Regions from separate parts of the Homo sapiens genome. Here region 1 is linked to region 2. Evidence: fine-mapped QTL for protein levels in blood plasma. A gene starts in region 2. The other region holds a variant in brackets. All regions are shown on one strand. Distances are between the middles of the regions.

Region 1 (8,329 bases), 67 kb after region 2:
TTGCCAGGGGCTCACCAGGAATCAACCCAGGCCCTAGCTGTCCCAGGCCATTCCTCTTTCTGACTCAGCCACTGCCCTTCAACTCAAAGTTTTCTCTCCCAGGAGAAAAAAAAAAAAAAAAGGACTTCCTGTCTTTTTCCTGATTTTGAAATAATAACAACAATAGCTAACATTCAGATATCTTCGATAATGTTCACCATGTGTGAGGCACATTTGGACTCATTTAATCCTCACAACACCCATATGGGATTTAACCATTTAACAGATAGGAAATGACAGCATACAGAGGTGAGGGGACCTGCCCGGGGTCACTCAGCTCACAAGGAGCAGGGCTTGGCGTCCAGTTCATGCAGGCTATGGCCTCCCTTTAACCACCATGCAGCACTGCCCTTCGGAAATGCAAGCTTTTCCTCGCCAAAGAGCTTTCAGGCATATTCTGGAACAGGGAGATGCTGTGAACAGCCCCCAGCCTCCGAAGCCCTCCTAAAATCTACTCGTGTGTGTTTGCATGCATGTGTGTATCTGCTTATGTGTGTGCAAATGTGTATCCACTAAGCACACACACCAGTCCACTAAAGTGCTCCCACTTGTCCTAAAGGTCAGACAGCAGCTGGGTCATTGCTTGCTCTGCTCTCAGAAGGGAGAAAAAGTTCCATTTTGGCTGACAAGCTGCAATTCTAGGCTTTGCCCTGGAGGACTGGACTTCCCTAGGGCCAGGACCCTGGGCCTCCCTCCTTCGAGGAGCGGGGTCTCCACCCCAGAGCAGTGGGGTGGGTCTCCCTGGGAGATGGGGGATGGGAAGGGCAGCAGGGTCTCACTGGGCGGGAATGGCAGAGGTTCAAGAGATAAGCTGATGGATGAAAAGGTCAGCATCCAAAAGAAAGCCCAAAGAACTCCCCAGGGCAGCCAGCTGTCTGTCACATGGTCCCGGAGGCTCCCGCTGTCCACATCTGCATCAGCACCATGGGTGGGAAGTTCAAAACCCAGCATAGCCGGGGCCCAAACTTCAGTGAGGAAATCGTCTAAGGGAAGAGGGTGCCTGGTTGGTGGCATATGGTTCCAGGTCATCAGCACCCTGAGAACACAGGCTTCTGAAACTGGCCAACCTGGAGTCCCCTTCCAGCTGTACAAATTCTTTGCTGTGTGTCCATGCGGAGTTCACATCCTCTCTCTGAGCCTCAGTTTACTCGTGTGTAAAGCAAGGAGGCTGGACTCGACAACCCTTAGGATCCATTCCAGGTCTAATCTGTTTCCGAACCTTTAATGCGCACCTAGAGTGTACCAAACACTGTACTATTTATTGGGGATATGGTGGGGAACAAGAGGCCAAGGAAGGGGACAGTAATCGGGTAGGCAAATTAAGAAGCAGGATAGTTTTAGGCAGGGATCAATGCTGTGCAATAAACCAGGTGCTGTAATAAGAGTGGCTAGGGGGTGATGGAAGTGGAGAGGGATTTCTACCATAGAAGGTGATCAGGGAAGGCTTCTCTGAGCAGGTAGTTTTTGAGAAGGTTACAGGTGGGGGCGGAGCACTCCAGACAAAGGAGGAGCAAGTGCAAACGCCCTAAGGTAGGAACAAGTCTGCCCTGTTGGAGAAGATAAAGAAAGGCCATGTGGTTGGGACAGAGGCAATGAGGTTGGGGTGTGGTGGAAGAGTGGGCAGTCTTCTCAGGGCTTCAGCCACCAAGAGAAGCTCCTGGTCCAGGCAGGGACGTGGATTCGTGAACCAATCTTTTTTTTTCTCTGTTGCAATGTGGACCCCATTTCTCTCCAGAGGGAGGAGGAGACATAAAGCCATGAGACCCTGGAAAGCATTTCTGAGCTGGGGCACAAGCCTAGGAGGCAGTGGGTAGCAAAGTGAGTTGGGATGGAGGAAAATTACTCTTCATTTGAGGTGTGGTTCTCTCTCTCCCACTGAGAAGAAAATGCATGGCAGAAAGAACATCTGTCAGTTTTGCCCCACAGTGGAAAATGCAAGGCTGGGAAACCTGAGTCCTGGGTTTTCCTACGGCCGTTCCAGGCACTGGGCAGCACGATGCCAGGAATGTTCTTTCCTTTTTCTCCAGGGAAGGCTAAGTGGGTGTCAGCCATTCACACCTCTGTGGGAAAGACTCTACCACTGGCACTGTCCTTCCAACACCTGGATAAAGTCAGGGTTTTCAATGAGGGGCAGGGGCTGGGGGAGGTGATGTGATTCTCAAAGCCAGGGCCTGTGTAGGGAGATATCTGGGCCCGGGACCCTCACCCAGACCTGCTGAGGAAGGCGTGAGTCTCTCCCGCTCACAGAGGGGTTGGGCAAAGACTTGAACCTGAGTCTGTCTAACTCCAACACAGGGATTTTTCCTCCCCTGCCCCTCTGTCTCAGCCAGCTGCACAGTTTCACTACAAACATCAGTCCCAGGGGAGAGGGAGGAAGGAGAGGGGCAGGGTGGTGAGGTCTGCGTTCCTTAAATAAACGGAGGGCAGAATTCTAGCCAGAAGGGGGCGAGGGTTACCCAGCCCAGTGGAGCATGGAGCCGCCCCTCTAGTTCCCACTGCCACCGTGATGCCATCAGATGGGAGAAAACACAGAACTCGGGATGAAACGTCACACGGTCTGGGCTAAAGATCTTGCTCTTTAATTTCCCAGCAGGTAACCTTGTGGCAGTCACTAACCCTCTCTACACCTCAATGTTCTCATCTGTAAAATGGAAATGATGACCCCTGGGTCTCCCAGGACCGTGAGGGGTCCTGAAAGGGCAGGTGTGCGCGGTGCTTTGTAGATGATAAGGCATCTCAGAAACACCGGGGCTTTACTGTTATTTTCTCTCCAGCTTGTTTGGGCAGACAAAAGAGAAATCGAGCCCAGTCATTCTTAGCACAGCCAAGAAGGGCAGATTTCAAAAGGAGCCTTGCTTCAAACTGAGGAAAACCAAAAAGGAAAAAACAACAAACACAGCTGCCCCTACCCTCCAGTCCACAAAACAGTCTGTGTCTGACAAGCTGGGCTCTGCCAGCGGCCCACCCCCAGACTCCTGCACCAGCTGGCCTTCCTGACCTGTGTGCCCTGGGAGCCAGGCCGACTCTTCACACTTCCAGTCACCGACACAGTGCAATGCAACCCATTCTTGCTCAAGGCCTCCTTAGAAATTATTCCTCCCATTGCTCGAACCTGGGAGTTGGAGATTGCAGTGAGCCACGATGGTGCCACTCCACTCTAGCCTGGGTGACACAGTGAGACCCTGCCTCAAAAAAAAGAAAAGAAAAGGGAGGGGAGGGAAGGGAAAATTAAAAAAAAAGAAAAGAGAAAAGAAAAGAAATTACTCCTTCCCCAGGCAGGGAAGCCACCCAGAGCTGTCCACACTGCATATTAGGGCTTGCACACTCTAGCTCCCCAGCCTCTCCCACTCCCTCTTCCTGTACACGTGCACACACACACACACACACACACACACCCCAACACACTTCTGGGGAATTCAGACTCACTTCCTTTCCTTCGGTGGCCTCCAGGATGATCTGGTAAAACCTTAAGCGATGCAATTTTTTTATGATTCTAATCTGCCGCAGAGCTGACCCTCTCCCTATTCCCAGCAGGCTGATAACCCAGCTCCTAAGCACCTCTCTTGGCAGCCTCCTTCAGAATGGCATTCCTGGGCAAGGCCTGGCAGCTCTGGAAGGCTCTCGTTGAGTTGGCTCTGTTACCCATGAGAGGAAACTCTCAGCTGTCACATGTTGATTGTTCAGATGAGCAGAGAAGTGGGCACAGAAAGAGTTGGGCACAGGACTGGTTAAGTGTGGATGGGGGTCAACTTGGAAGAAAGCGTAGCGGGGATACTGCACAAAGGAAGCCAGCCCAGGTGGGATGCCATGGCATGCTTGGGGGCACACGGGGAAGTGGGGCTCCAGTCGGATGGCTGGAGGAGGAAAAGCTGTGGGCTAGGAGATAGAAGGCTCGGTGAGTGCTCACTGTGTGACCTTGGGCAGGTTGTTTGGCCTCTCTGAGACTCGGTTTTCTCATCTCACAGGCAGTTGTGAGGATGTCCTGAGAGTACGTCTGGGGAAGGCCTTTGTAAACCCTGAGAGCCAGAGGTCCCCAGGGTCAGGGAGAATCGGGGAGGCACCTCGGGTGACCAGACCAGCAGCAGGCTCTGGGCAGAGGGCGGGCAGGAGGGGGCTGCAAGCTGAACTTCTCCCCCAACCCCAGGAAGGGTCACCCTGTCCAAC[G/A]TGTCCGAGCGGAAAGACAACATGCGCCTCGGCCTTAGTCTCGCCACCAACCCCAAGGACAACAGCTTCCTGGTAAGAGCCACCTGCCACTGCTTGGGGTCAGGAGAGGCAGGGGTGGGGGTGGGGAGGGGTGGAGCGTCTCCTTACACACCCTCATGTCCATCCTGTACACCCACTCTCCCCCACTCCAACCACCAAGCTGCCTGGCCCTGTGCATTCCAGGAAGCAGCTCCCCCGCCAGCTCCCTGCTTATGCCATTCCGGGTGGCAGGGCCCTGGGTGTTTTGGCAGGGACAGTCCAGGCAGAAGAAACAATTGAGCCCTTTTGTGTGCATATCCCGAAGGAGGGAGGAACAGCCAGAAAGGGGACAAGAATAAATGTAGATAGCCAACAAGTCTGGTGGGGGACTGTCCCTTTCCTTGGGGAGCTAGTTGTCTGGGCTGGAGGTCAAATCTCTGCTCTAGGCTTGAAAAAAGAAGCAGGCTGCACCACACACCCAAAGAAGACTTGGAAGGGATGCCATAAATGAGTAAACACAGACTACCACAGCCGAGGGAAGGGCTACAGAGTGACAAGCCGTCTCAACTATCCAGGATTAGATGAAGAAGGCTGGAGGAGGTTTCTGTTTTGTTTTTAAAGAAGAGACAGGCCTTCGCAAGGAAGAAAAGGGCATGTCTGGGTTGAGGTGGTAGAAACATTCATTCATTTAAACAATGATGTTTCTGAGCACTTACCATAGTATGTGCTAAGCCCAGTGCTGGGCACCGGGATTCAGCAATGAATAGAGACCCTGTCCTGCTGGAGCTTACACTGTGGTGGAAAGAGAGGCGACAAGCAAACGAGTAATGTCTAATAGGACTTTGGGGGACAGACAGCAGCAGGCTCTGCTTACAGGTCTCTGTTCTGTGCCCAGGTGAGCACATATGGACTCTGCACATGGTAGTGAGTGTGGGCGGCACAATGGATTGGCACTGCCTGCTCCTTGCCACCACCTTGGAGTGAGCTGCGTTGAGTATGGGCGATGCTTGGGGTTCAAACAGGATCCTTCTGAGACTGATGGTTCCTAGAAACAGTTGCAGGAGAGGACTTCAGAGAAAATTTACCCCAGAAAGCCCAGTACAAATTACTGCCCATTTTTAGATGGGGTGCTTGTGTCAGTCTTTGTTCTGGTCTATTTCTGCTGACAAATGAGACATCTGGGGCATGAATCACAAGACAAATTAGATAAGACAAATAAGACATAAAGATAAGACGATGACTGGGATGCAAGGGGACTTGAGTGCATAGTGGCCCTGCCAGGGAAAGTCATGAGGTGCCTTGATGTATATTCAGCCCACAGCCCTTTATTAGCCATAACCAGAGGCAAAGCAGGACCCCTGGCCCTATCCACACACATATCCGTCAGGGGCTTTGTCTCTACTCCCTTTTCCCTCTCAGGCTCCTTATCACATTTCTTCTTCACAAGGTGGTATGAAGGTCTGAGAGGAATGGTGTGATATATTCTCTGGGGCCTCTGTGAGTAGGTTAATCCTTGGTTTATAGATAGTCACCTGTTCATTGATTCACTCATCTGTCCATTCCCCTCTCAACAATTCATTCCTCCATTCATCTATCCAACCACCCATGCATTCATCTACCCATCTGTCTATACATCGATCCACCATCAATCTCCCATGTAATCATCCATCTTTCCATTTATTCCTTCCTGCATCCATCCATCAACCTCCATCATCTATCATTCATCCACCCATCAATTCATCATCCATCCATCCATCAACCATCCATCATCCATCTGTCATTCATCCACTTATTCATCCATCATCCATTCATCCATCATCCATTCATCCATCATCCATCCACCCATTCATCCATCAACCATCTATCATCCATCCATTATCATTCATCCACCCATTCATACATGGATCATCTATCCATCCATCATCCATCCACTAATTCATCCATCATCTATCCAGCCATCATTCATTCACCCATTCATTCATCATCCATTCATCCATCATCTGTCCACTATCCATCATCCATCCATTATCCATTCATCTATCTGTCCATCCATTCACATCTATCCATCATCCTTCCATCCATCTTCCATCCATTTATCCATCCATCCATTCATCATCCATCTATACATCATTCATCCATCCATCTATACATCATTCATCCATCCATCTACCACCCACTTATCCATCCATCTATCATCTGTCTATCCATCCACTTATCCATCCATCCATCTATCCATTCTTTATTCCCCTCTGTCCCCTGCCACTTCCAAACATTATGTACAGCAGCTTCAACAAAGTACACAGATAAAACATAACCTTTAAGATCTGAGCTTAAAAAGAAAGTAATTAAAGAAAGGGATCGGAAGTAGAATAATTACTCCCCTAAACCAAAGGAAATTACAGCACAAAATTTAGCTCTGGGTTTCCTGATAGCAGGATAACAATGGAAGCATGGAGCTGAGCTTTCATTTTTAATGACAATGACTCTGAGAAGAACCCTTCACTCAGTCCTTCAATGGGGACTGACATCAGTGTTTTTGGTAGAACATTTCACAGAAAGAATACAGACATTCTTATCTTCCCCTGCCCCAGTATGAGCCATGGCATGTTTTTGGGACCCAGTCCTAGAAGTTTGCCCAGTAAGGCCCTTCAGGCGACCTCTCAGACAGAGGAGTTATTCTAGTGACCCTTGAAGTGTTCACACCCGTGGGTGAAAAGGCTTCCCCAGATCCCGTATGGTGGGTGGGTGAGTGGGGTGGGCAGGTAGGGTGAAGAAGTATCATATTCCTAAATGATGAGATGGAGAACAGGGCCTTGAAAAAACAATGAAAGAGACTCCAAGATCAGTTTTTCTCCATTAGACCTGAAACCAAAGGAACTAGTACACATTGCAGCAAGAGAGAGTTCAGTTAGACCCAAAGAAGATCCCTCACCCCCTCACCCCTCAGATAGAAGTCTGTCTTGGGTCGTGGAGGATGGGAGTGGGCCTCAGGCCATTGGACCTCGATCCTCTCTGAGGTCCCCTCACTGACTGGGGATCTGCACTGCCCTCCCCAGGCCTGCAGCCCCCTCTGGTCTCATGAGTGTGGGAGCTCCTACTACACCACAGGGATGTGTTCAAGAGTCAACTCCAACTTCAGGTTCTCCAAGACCGTGGCCCCAGCTCTCCAAAGTAAGTGGCTTCAAATCTGCAACCTCAAGCTGAGCAGTGGACAGTCCAGAGAGACTTGGGCCCTGAGCACAACAACCTGTGGCTAGAAAGCAGTATTTGGACTCTAGCACTGTCCTGCCCCAGCTCTCCGGATGACCTGGAATGTATCACTCCACTCTCTGGGCCTCTGTGGGAGTCATAATCCTGGCCTCCCTCTCCCAAGTGTGATGGTGGAGAGCAAATGAGCTAAGGTTTCAAAGACAATCCCAGCCTCAAGGGAGGCTCACTGCAGAAACCCTGGGTATATAGGAGGTTACCTGGCAAGCACATGCAGCAGACAAGCTGTGCACTGCACAATTCTGGGGGAATTGTTCACTTAGACATATGAATGGCGCCCCCTGATGTTGTGCAATGCAGTAGCCTTGTAGATGAAGGAACAGGGAGAACAGAAATCTCCTTGGTAGTAGTTCCACCAAATCAGTGCTCCTGGACAGCAGGGAGTTCTGTCCAGCTCGTCCAGAGCCTCATGGAACGTAAAACCTCTTGCTCATTGCCCACCTGCGAAGAAAACCTGGGGAATTACTGCTCAGACCCTGCCTCCCACAAGCCCAGACTTCTTGGCTCTGAGCCTCACTATTTCCTCTGCACTAAATACCATCACCCAAGCAGCTGCTGCCCGTTTTATGGAGGGTTCGGGAATTGGCACCTCTGGCTTGCCTGCAGCCGCCCTCCAGACAACAAGGCCGAGTCAGATGGGGCTGGGGAAGGGAGGAGGAGGAAGCATCAGTCCAGCAGGGGCAGAAAGGTCGTCTTTCTGGGGGATAATGAGACATGGATTCTATTCACACAAAATGACAGAGGAAATGGCAGAGCCAGGGCACAGGAGGAGGCCTGAGGTCAGGGTACGTGAGGGGCCCACCGGGGAATGTCACCACCCCTAGAGCTAGTCCCTCCAGGC
Region 2 (8,264 bases):
GAGAGAGCAGTAACATTGATTTGAGACCCTTGATCCAGCCACACCTGCAGACAGAACACCTTTGCACTTCCTAGTTACATGACCTTTTACATTCTATTTTCTGCTTCAGTTTGATTGTGTTGAATTTCTGTCACTTGCAAGTGAAAGAATCTTCAACTATACAATCTCTTTACTATAAAAAATAAATACAATTTTGTACAAGATGAGTATTAAATTAGATCATGGATATGAAAGGGATTTCAAAAATAGTAAAACACTATACATAGCACTTGTACATTGTTGGTAGGAATCTAAAATGATGTAGCAACTGTGGAAAATAGTTTGGCAGTTCCTCAAATGATTAAACATAAAATTACTATATGATCAGCAATTCCACTCCTAGGTGTATACCCAAGAGAACTGAAAACATACATTCATACAAAAACTTGTATGAACATTATGCTAACATTATGCTATGTTAATGGATGGTAGAACTGCTACCAGCAAGACCGGCAGCACAAGTGTTCATAGCCACATTATTCACAATAACCTAAAGTGGAAACACCTAAATAAGCCTCACCTGATGAATGGATAAACAAAAGGGGGTAGATCCATACAATGGAATGTTACTTGGCAATAAAAAGGAATGAAATACTGATACATGTTGCAACATGGATGAACCTTGGAAACATCATGCTAAGGGAAAGAAGCCAGACTCAAAAGGTCACGTATTATATGATTTCATTTATATGCAACGTCCAGAATAGGCAAATCCATAGAAATAGATTTGTGGTTGCCAGGGACTGGTGGGAAGGAATGGGGAGTGACTGCTCATGGTTACAGGGCTTCTTTTTGGGGTGATAAAAATATTGTGAAATTAGTGAGGATGATTTTACAATCTTGTGAATATACTAACAACTACTGGATTCTATGGCACAGTTTATGGCATGTGAATAAATAAATCAGTTAAAACACTGTGTACATGTAAAGAGTTATTATTATTATTCAACAGAAATCACAGCTTTCATAAAGCCCTTCACCAAATTCTCTGCAGTTCTCCAGCCTTAGAGTCTGGATTGTGCACTTGTCACTCATATGCTGCTGCCTTGGGTGTGATTTAAATAATGTTTAATAGTGATGAAATAATAAATGGTTTTAAATAGATTAATAAATAACAGATTATGATTAAATAAATACATGGTTATGTCTTGTCTCCTCAGCTCCATCACCAGCTGCCCTAGTGTGGGGTTCTCCTTCCGTGTGTCCTACAGAGCACAGGGGCACAGTAGGCACTCTGTAGGATCTGTTGAAAGAACAAATGAGGGCACACCTCTCCCCTCACCCTCCCACATTACACAAAAGCACACAGAGTGATCCTCAGGACCCCCATTCCCCAGGCACCTGTGAGGACGGTGAAGGTGAATGAATGGTAGAATTGTTACCAGCGAGACCAGCAGCAGCGCAGCTAGGACAGCCACTACAGTGCGCCCCTTCAGCAAGCAGCATGCAGACTCTGAGCACAAGCTGCAGACCACCCACACGTCAGAGGTGCCTGGGGCACCCACCAGCATGCCCTGATCCTTGGGGAATTTGCATTCTTTGCACGTGCTCCAGGTCGTTCTGATGCACCTGGAGATTTGTGCAAGGCAGGAATGTGGGCTGCAGCCCATTCCCTAGCTGTAGGGGTGTTCTACATTCAACTCAGCTGGCTTAAACTCAACTCAGTGAAGAGGACTCACTGTCGTATAACTGATAAGTCCCAAGGGGAGTGGGGTTAAGGGGTGGCTTCATTCAGGAGTTCAACAAGATCCTCCATTCTGTCATCCAGTGTCCACCTCATCTCAAGGCCAGATCCTCCTTCCCTACCCTGACCCTGTCAACTTCTGAGCCTACAAAGTTCCTTGTCCCAGGCTGGGAGAGGAGGCAGGAGTGGGAGAGGTGAGGAGAGAGAGTTAGTTCATTTGTTTGTTTGTTCTAGGGGCTCTTTTAGAAAGGCAAGAAAGCTTGCTTCCCAAAAAAACTTTTTCTTTTGTCATATTGCCCTTTCTGAAACGATGGGCTGGGAAGGGCAACATACTGATTCATTTCAGCCTGAACCGCATGCCTCCTTACACACACACACACACACACACACACACCAGGGACGGAATCACCTTCCCCGAGTCTGTGGCTGAATGGGTGAGGTGAAGATGAAGTAAAACCCAGATAGCCAACCGAAAGATAGTGAGGTTGGGAGACGAGCACAAGCCCACTTCACTTATGTGAACCTGGGTCTTCTCAAACTCCAGCTCATCTTCAGGGGCCCTGACTGAACATCACCTCCTCTGGGAAGCCCTTCCAATACCTCCCAGATAGAAAACTCTATCCTTTGTGCACCCACACACCACCTGTACTCACCCATCCATCCACCCGCCCACCTACTTTGTTCCTGGGTGTTAGGGGCTGAGTACTCCATTGTGAACCAGAGATTTCTACCCTGATGGTGTTTTCAGTCTGCACAGGAGAGAAAAGTTAAATGATCACACCAATTGATGCCTTGCTTCTCTACTAAGCACAATGAAGAGAAATGAGGGAGAGCGGGCTGGGGAATATCAGCATGTGTCTGGGACTCAACCTGGTGGGGACGGGAAGAGGGGGTGAAGGAAGCCTTTCCTGAGAAAGTGGGGGAAGGGCGCTCTGCTGTGGCTTTCCCTGCATCTTGGCCTTCCTACCCTCTGCCTCGGCTTCCTCCATTGCTGGAAAAGCCTCCACAAGCGCGGTGGAGGTCCGGGGCCTGGATTTAAAGCTCTTGAGATAAATGTGCATTGAATTTAACTACCAGTGATTAGAAGAGGGAAAGAAGGTGGCAGGGTTACAAAGAAGAGCTTCACGTTAGGTTAAGAGGGGGTGCACGGTGTCCCTGGGTGCTTTGGAATGCCTCAGGTGTGGAGGCTCAGGGAGTGGCAGTGGAGGCGAATCTGCATGTATTCCAGGGTCAGAAGAAACACTAGCCTCTACAATTCAAGCCGCAGGGTGCAGGGAGACACGGGGATGTCTTAGAATGGACCTTTGAGGGACATCCACTCACTTGGCCAAGGGAGACCTGCGTTCCAGCAGGTGTTCCTGAGCCAGCTTGGGTACCCTCTGAGTTTTGTGAATCTCTTTTCACTGGGAAATGGGAATAAAAACCACTTTTCCTGAACAGAATCTGACTGAGGCGGTGCGGTGCTACACTGGTGAGGGGGTTCCCAGGAGCGGTTCTCTGGAGTTTTCTCCAGAGGCTGACGTGGGGTTGGCGGAGAAGGAGCGCTGCACAGGCGCGTCGAGGCAGCGCGCCGCCTGCCCAGGTGGCAGAGCGGCCGAGACTGGCCCAGAGCCCGAGCCGGAGTGGTGTCCGGCGCCCCTCCCCTCCGCTCGAGCCCTCCCACTTCCTCTGAATGAGCCGCAGCTGTCAGGGAGCCCGGCGCCCCGCGCAGTGCAGGCTGCAGGCGCCGCGCCGAGGAGGCTGCCGCTCTGGCTTGCCGCCCCCCGCCGCCGCTGCACACCGGACCCAGCCGCCGTGCCGCGGGCCATGGACCTGCCCAGGGGCCTGGTGGTGGCCTGGGCGCTCAGCCTGTGGCCAGGTAGGTGCCCACCCTCTGCCTCCCCTTGCCTCTCGGAGTCCCTCCCTGGGCCCTCGGGGCTTGGATCCAGCGGCCAGGATCGGGACGCGACCCTCCTCCCAGGGTCAGACCTCAGCTGCTCTTGGGGACGTGGGTCCCCCAGGGACTGGCCCCAGTCTAGCGGTTCAGTCAAGTTTCGCTAAAGAGGGAGGTGCGAAGGCTATTGAAAGCCGGGACTCTTTGGTGTGTTTGGGAAGAGTTGAAGAGGCTTGAGTTGAAAAGCTCCCAGATCTGGTGGCCCTCCTGGGCGCCTTAGGTGCCTCCAAGGCCCATGCCGGGGTTCCCGCACGGCTGCCAGGGGCACTCGGGTGTCCCGGGAGCGCCGAGGGCGCACGGCCCCGGCTGGGGAAGGGAATCAGCGCCAAGAGAGTGTGCCCTGGCTGCCCTCCTGCCTGGCTCCGGGGAAGCATCTCAAAGTTTGGAGAGCCGGGCGCGGCGGCCCCGGAGGGCTGAAGGGTGGGGGTGAGGGCTGCGCAGAGTGCCTCCGGCCAAAGACAGAGCAAAGCCCCGGGGCGATGGCCGGTAGGCGGGGGCTAGCTCTCGTCTGCCCGGCCAGCAGCGGCGGGACACAGTCGCGCAGCGCAGGACCCCCGAAACGTTACCTGACACCCGGGGTAGGGACCCGGCATTGCCTCCCAACCCGCGCTCGGAATTATGCAATTATTCAATAATCTGGGGAAAGCCGCCGTCGCCTAGACGCGCGCCGCCGCCTAATGCACTCCAGGTGTCGGGGCGCGGCAGGAACCTCCGGCCCGAGGGGCGCGCGGCTGGGAGCGGGAAGCCAGCCCTGAGCTCTCCGCCCTAGGGTACCCTGGCCCCGGCCGTCCCACACCGGGCTCCCCGGCTCCACCCTCCACGCGGGGCGGCTGCCAGTGATGCTGTTCTGCGGAAGACGGCCAAGTGCTCCGGCAAGGGCCAGCGCCTCGGTTACTGGCCGGGTGTGGGCGCTCAACCTTGCCTCCCCTTCTGCGTGGGCTCCAGGCCCGAGCTGGGGCCAGTAGTGGGGGTCAGATGCGGTGGTAGTGGGAGAGGTGCCCTCAGGGAGCTCAGGTGGAGACCCCTATCCCGCAGCCGCTTGCCCCAGTCCCCGGGTACCACGCGAAGCAAGTCCACCCTCCTGTCGGCCTACAGAGGAGCTTCTCAGAGGGCCCATGGTTGAAAGGGCCTCTGGCTAGTGGAATCCTAGAGTCACAGTTTAAAACAATCATTGATACATTGAGTTGTGGGGGCTTGGAAGGGAGAGCAGGGGAAGAACTGCCACCAGGCCAATATGCAACTAGAAGCCAGCTGCGGGAGGAGGCCAAGCCCATTTAGGTGTGTTTAGACAGGAGGGGAGAATCTTCTCCAGGAACTGTCCTCATATCACTAGGAGATCCAGCCACAAGAAAAGAGACGCACTCCTGTGTGACTCCAGATAGGTGGCTGCATCAGAACCTTGGGAAGGAGTGGCTGCCTTAGGGGCTAGGGACAGCCTGGACCTCAGGAAGCTAAGAGCAATGGCTTTGGAATCAGACCTGGCTTCCACTTCTGGCTCTGCACCCTGCTAGCTGTTCAATCTTGGACTGGTTATGCGACCTTTCCAACAGGTTTCCTTATGTGAAGAATGGAGACACAAATTCCGTGTCCTGTAAAGTTGTCAGGATGCACTAAGGCACTGTAAGAAAGGCCCTTAACACAGGGCTGGGTGCACAGTAGGCTTTAATCAATGGTTGTTAATGTTGTTGCTACTCAAGGAGGAGGGGGCAGAGAATGACATTAAAGGACCTCTGAAGACACAGGATTTGTGACTCAGAGCTCCGCTTATATGGCGAAAACCACTCCTGAGTTATGTCTGGTCAGTTGCATTCTTGAAATATGGGATTCATTAAACATATCAATCAATGTTGGAACAATGACATCTGCTTGCAAGGAGCTGGGGGTGGGGCCCTAGCGTGTGTGCAATCTGGGTCCTGCCTGTAACTGAGAATAAGCCAAGGCCAGGGAAAGCTAAACAGAGGCACCAGGGAGTGAATGGCTTGGGGAAACCAAGGGCTGGGTGTTCAAACAAGAGAAGTTCAATTTCAGCCAGATAAGCAAGGAAGGCTTCCTGGAGGAGGAGATATCATTTGAACTGGCCCTGGAAAAGTGTGTAGAGTGTGCATGGGCCTGAAAGTGGGAATGTTCATATTTTGGAGTATTATTTTCTGAGACTAGTTAAAGAAGATGATGAATATTTTAAAACCACTCTGGTCAGTGTGGACTTTGAAGACTAGAAGGGTCTCAGGGATCATTGGGTTCACTCCTCAGGCTCCAGGACAGGACTGATGTTGATACCTCATCCATGCATCACATGAATTCAATGTGAGGATTACCAGGAAGCTTGTCTACTGGTGATGGCAGTTTGGCTGGGCAGGGAACCTGTCAGAGGCCAAGTTGAGGGTGAGACCTCAGAGCATCTACTCTCCCAGAGCTCCAGCTGCAGGCTGGACAGCGTGATGGGGTAGACAAAACTAACAGGAAAGCCTAAAAAAAAAGTAATCAAGTCCAAAGAGAGAGATCCATTGACCAGAGCTTTACAGTCATAACCTATCTGTAGGAAGGGTGATGATTCTTAGAAGCATAATCTTTGCTGAGCACCTGTTATCTGCCAGGCCCCATAAAGACACAAAGTGAGATCAGACACAGCGTAAGGGTGGAGGCCCTGGAGTTTCACTGCCTGGGATTGGCCTAGCCCCTGCCGGTTAGGGCTCTGTGCTCTTGGCAAGTTACTCCATGGCTCTGTGCCTCAGTTTCCTCACCTACAAAGTGGGGGTAATAATAGAACTTAGAGTTATCACAAAGATTAATGCTTAGAAAGTGCCAGGCATGTATTAAGCACTCAAGGAGGTTGTCTTCTCCAACATCATCAGCAGCAGCAGTAGCACTCAAGATATTGACTATTCAGGATCTAAGGACACAGAGATATAACTTTCAAACTCAAGTTCTCAAGAGAAGTTTAGAGGAAGTACATTGAAGAATCAGAGGAGACATACATGCCAGGGCCCCAAATGAGTGAAGACTTTCCTAGTCCCTCCCGCAAAGCCCTGGCCCAAACTCTTGATCATAATAAGAACTCAGGGTTGTTGTTTTGTTTGTTTGTTTACCATCGGGGCTGTCTTGAAGTCAGTATGCTCTTGATGTGGGTGTATTGTGGTGTGGAAAAGGAGAAGGCCCATACCATGCAACATGGCCCTTGTGGGTAGGGGTCCTACCCAACAGAAAGCAACCTGTGGAAAAGCACAGTGCTAGACACCACAGGTGTACAAAGGCTCCAGAGGTCCAAGACTTGCTCCCAGCCTCTCCTTCCCAGTGGAGAGCAGGGAAGAAGGGAAAGTTTGTCACTTTGCCACCCCATTGCCCACTTTGACAGCCAAGCCCCTCAGCTGCCATTAGCTGAGGAGCTTCTGGATCTTTCCATATCACAAGCAGACCCTGGAGTCTCACTCTTTTTCTGCTTACTCACCATGACCCCATCTCTACCCCACAGTGGACCCCCAGAGAGGGGATGTCTATCTCCATGCTCTTCCCACCATTCCCAGCCCATCCACACAGGGCTGTGAGCCCTGGAAGAACTCAGACAGTATCTTACCTCTCAACCTTGCCCTCTCTGAACCTCTTTTTCCACCCTCCTGTAGTGGGGAGCTCTTCCTTCTTCTAACAGCAGGGACCTTCCCTTGCATTCTCCCTCCCTTCCACCAACACCCCCAGCTCCTATCACTTAGGATAAAAATATGTTCTAAGCTGAGCTGGCTTTGCTCTTGCTATGCAGAAGGGAATTTGGGGAATTTTAAAAGCCCCTGTTTCTTCTCCACAATGCCTGACTTTGGGTGTTATTGTCTCACCATGGGCTTCCAGAGCTTACTTTGGGGGTCAAAGTCGAACATTGTTCTAGGATCCATCATAACCCTCCCCAGGCAGTGATGGGCTCTGGCTGACTCAGGGAAGGTCAGCTACAAAATGAGCCTTAAAAATCCTCTAATATGGTTCAAAAATGGTATCTCTGCTGATCCTCATCACTGAAGTCCCCTTCCAGGCCCACCCACTCCCCACCAACTGTATGTAGGCTACCACCAAGGATTCATAGCCATTTGGAACTTTTCCCTAAGCAGCTGTGAGCTCCAAAGACACCCACACATCTTCAGCATGGAGTGCTTTCTATAGGAGCTGTGGTCCAAGGGCGACCCTCCACAACCCCATCATGCAGATCCTAACTGTGTGAATTCTTTGTCAAATGCCCATTAAGTTTGTTACCACTGACAGGAGAAGGAGAGGAGGAGACTGGTGCTGGTCATCTTGTAAATCTAAAATAAGTGAGCTGCAAAAAAATTCCATGGAGAGTTTTCATACTATATACTTAAGATCTGAGTCACACGACGTGTGAAATCCCACCTGGAGGAAAAAGTCAGTGAGGCCAAACCCCCTCCCTGCTGCCTCTCACTTCCTCCTTCACTGAAGCACTCACCAAGCAGCAGAAATAATTGGCATGTGCATGGGCTTAGGACCTAGACTGCCCGGATGCAAATCCTTTCTACCTGGGTGACTCTGGGATAAGCCCCCAGGCCTCAGTTTTCTCAACTGTAAAATGGGCAAAATAACAACTTCATAGGACAACAATCAGGTTAAATG

Alleles and levels. Alleles are on the strand shown, and positions count from the first base shown. The strength of an association depends on the size of the effect and on how common the allele is.
With allele A in place of G in region 1, the plasma level of the protein whose gene starts at base 3,433 in region 2 is lower (weak association).

What was found. PIP is the chance, under the fine-mapping model, that this variant and not a neighbour inherited with it causes the effect. The UK Biobank Pharma Proteomics Project read protein levels with antibody pairs (Olink). The fine-mapping took linkage between variants from a reference panel, not from the people measured, so its PIPs are less certain.
Region 1: its variant is fine-mapped to the plasma level of the ITGA11 protein (UK Biobank, PIP above 0.99). The variant lies in the coding sequence of ITGA11. If it changes the protein, the assay may bind it differently, which can mimic a change of level.

Annotation. Positions count from the first base shown.
Region 1 is chr15:68,360,653-68,368,981 of GRCh38, reverse strand. ITGA11 (integrin subunit alpha 11) reads left to right here. Exons shown (of 30, transcript NM_001004439.2): 4 at 4,184-4,275; 5 at 7,278-7,392. Among named protein-coding and RNA genes, the nearest start is that of ITGA11, 67 kb to the left of the region's middle. RefSeq lists an enhancer at 2,994-4,193. The variant G/A (reference allele first, on the strand shown) is at 4,204.
Region 2 is chr15:68,427,332-68,435,595 of GRCh38, reverse strand. It overlaps ITGA11 (integrin subunit alpha 11), which reads left to right and starts at 3,433. Exons shown (of 30, transcript NM_001004439.2): 1 at 3,433-3,581. The coding sequence starts at 3,530. RefSeq lists a silencer at 1,432-1,726 and an enhancer at 4,273-5,032.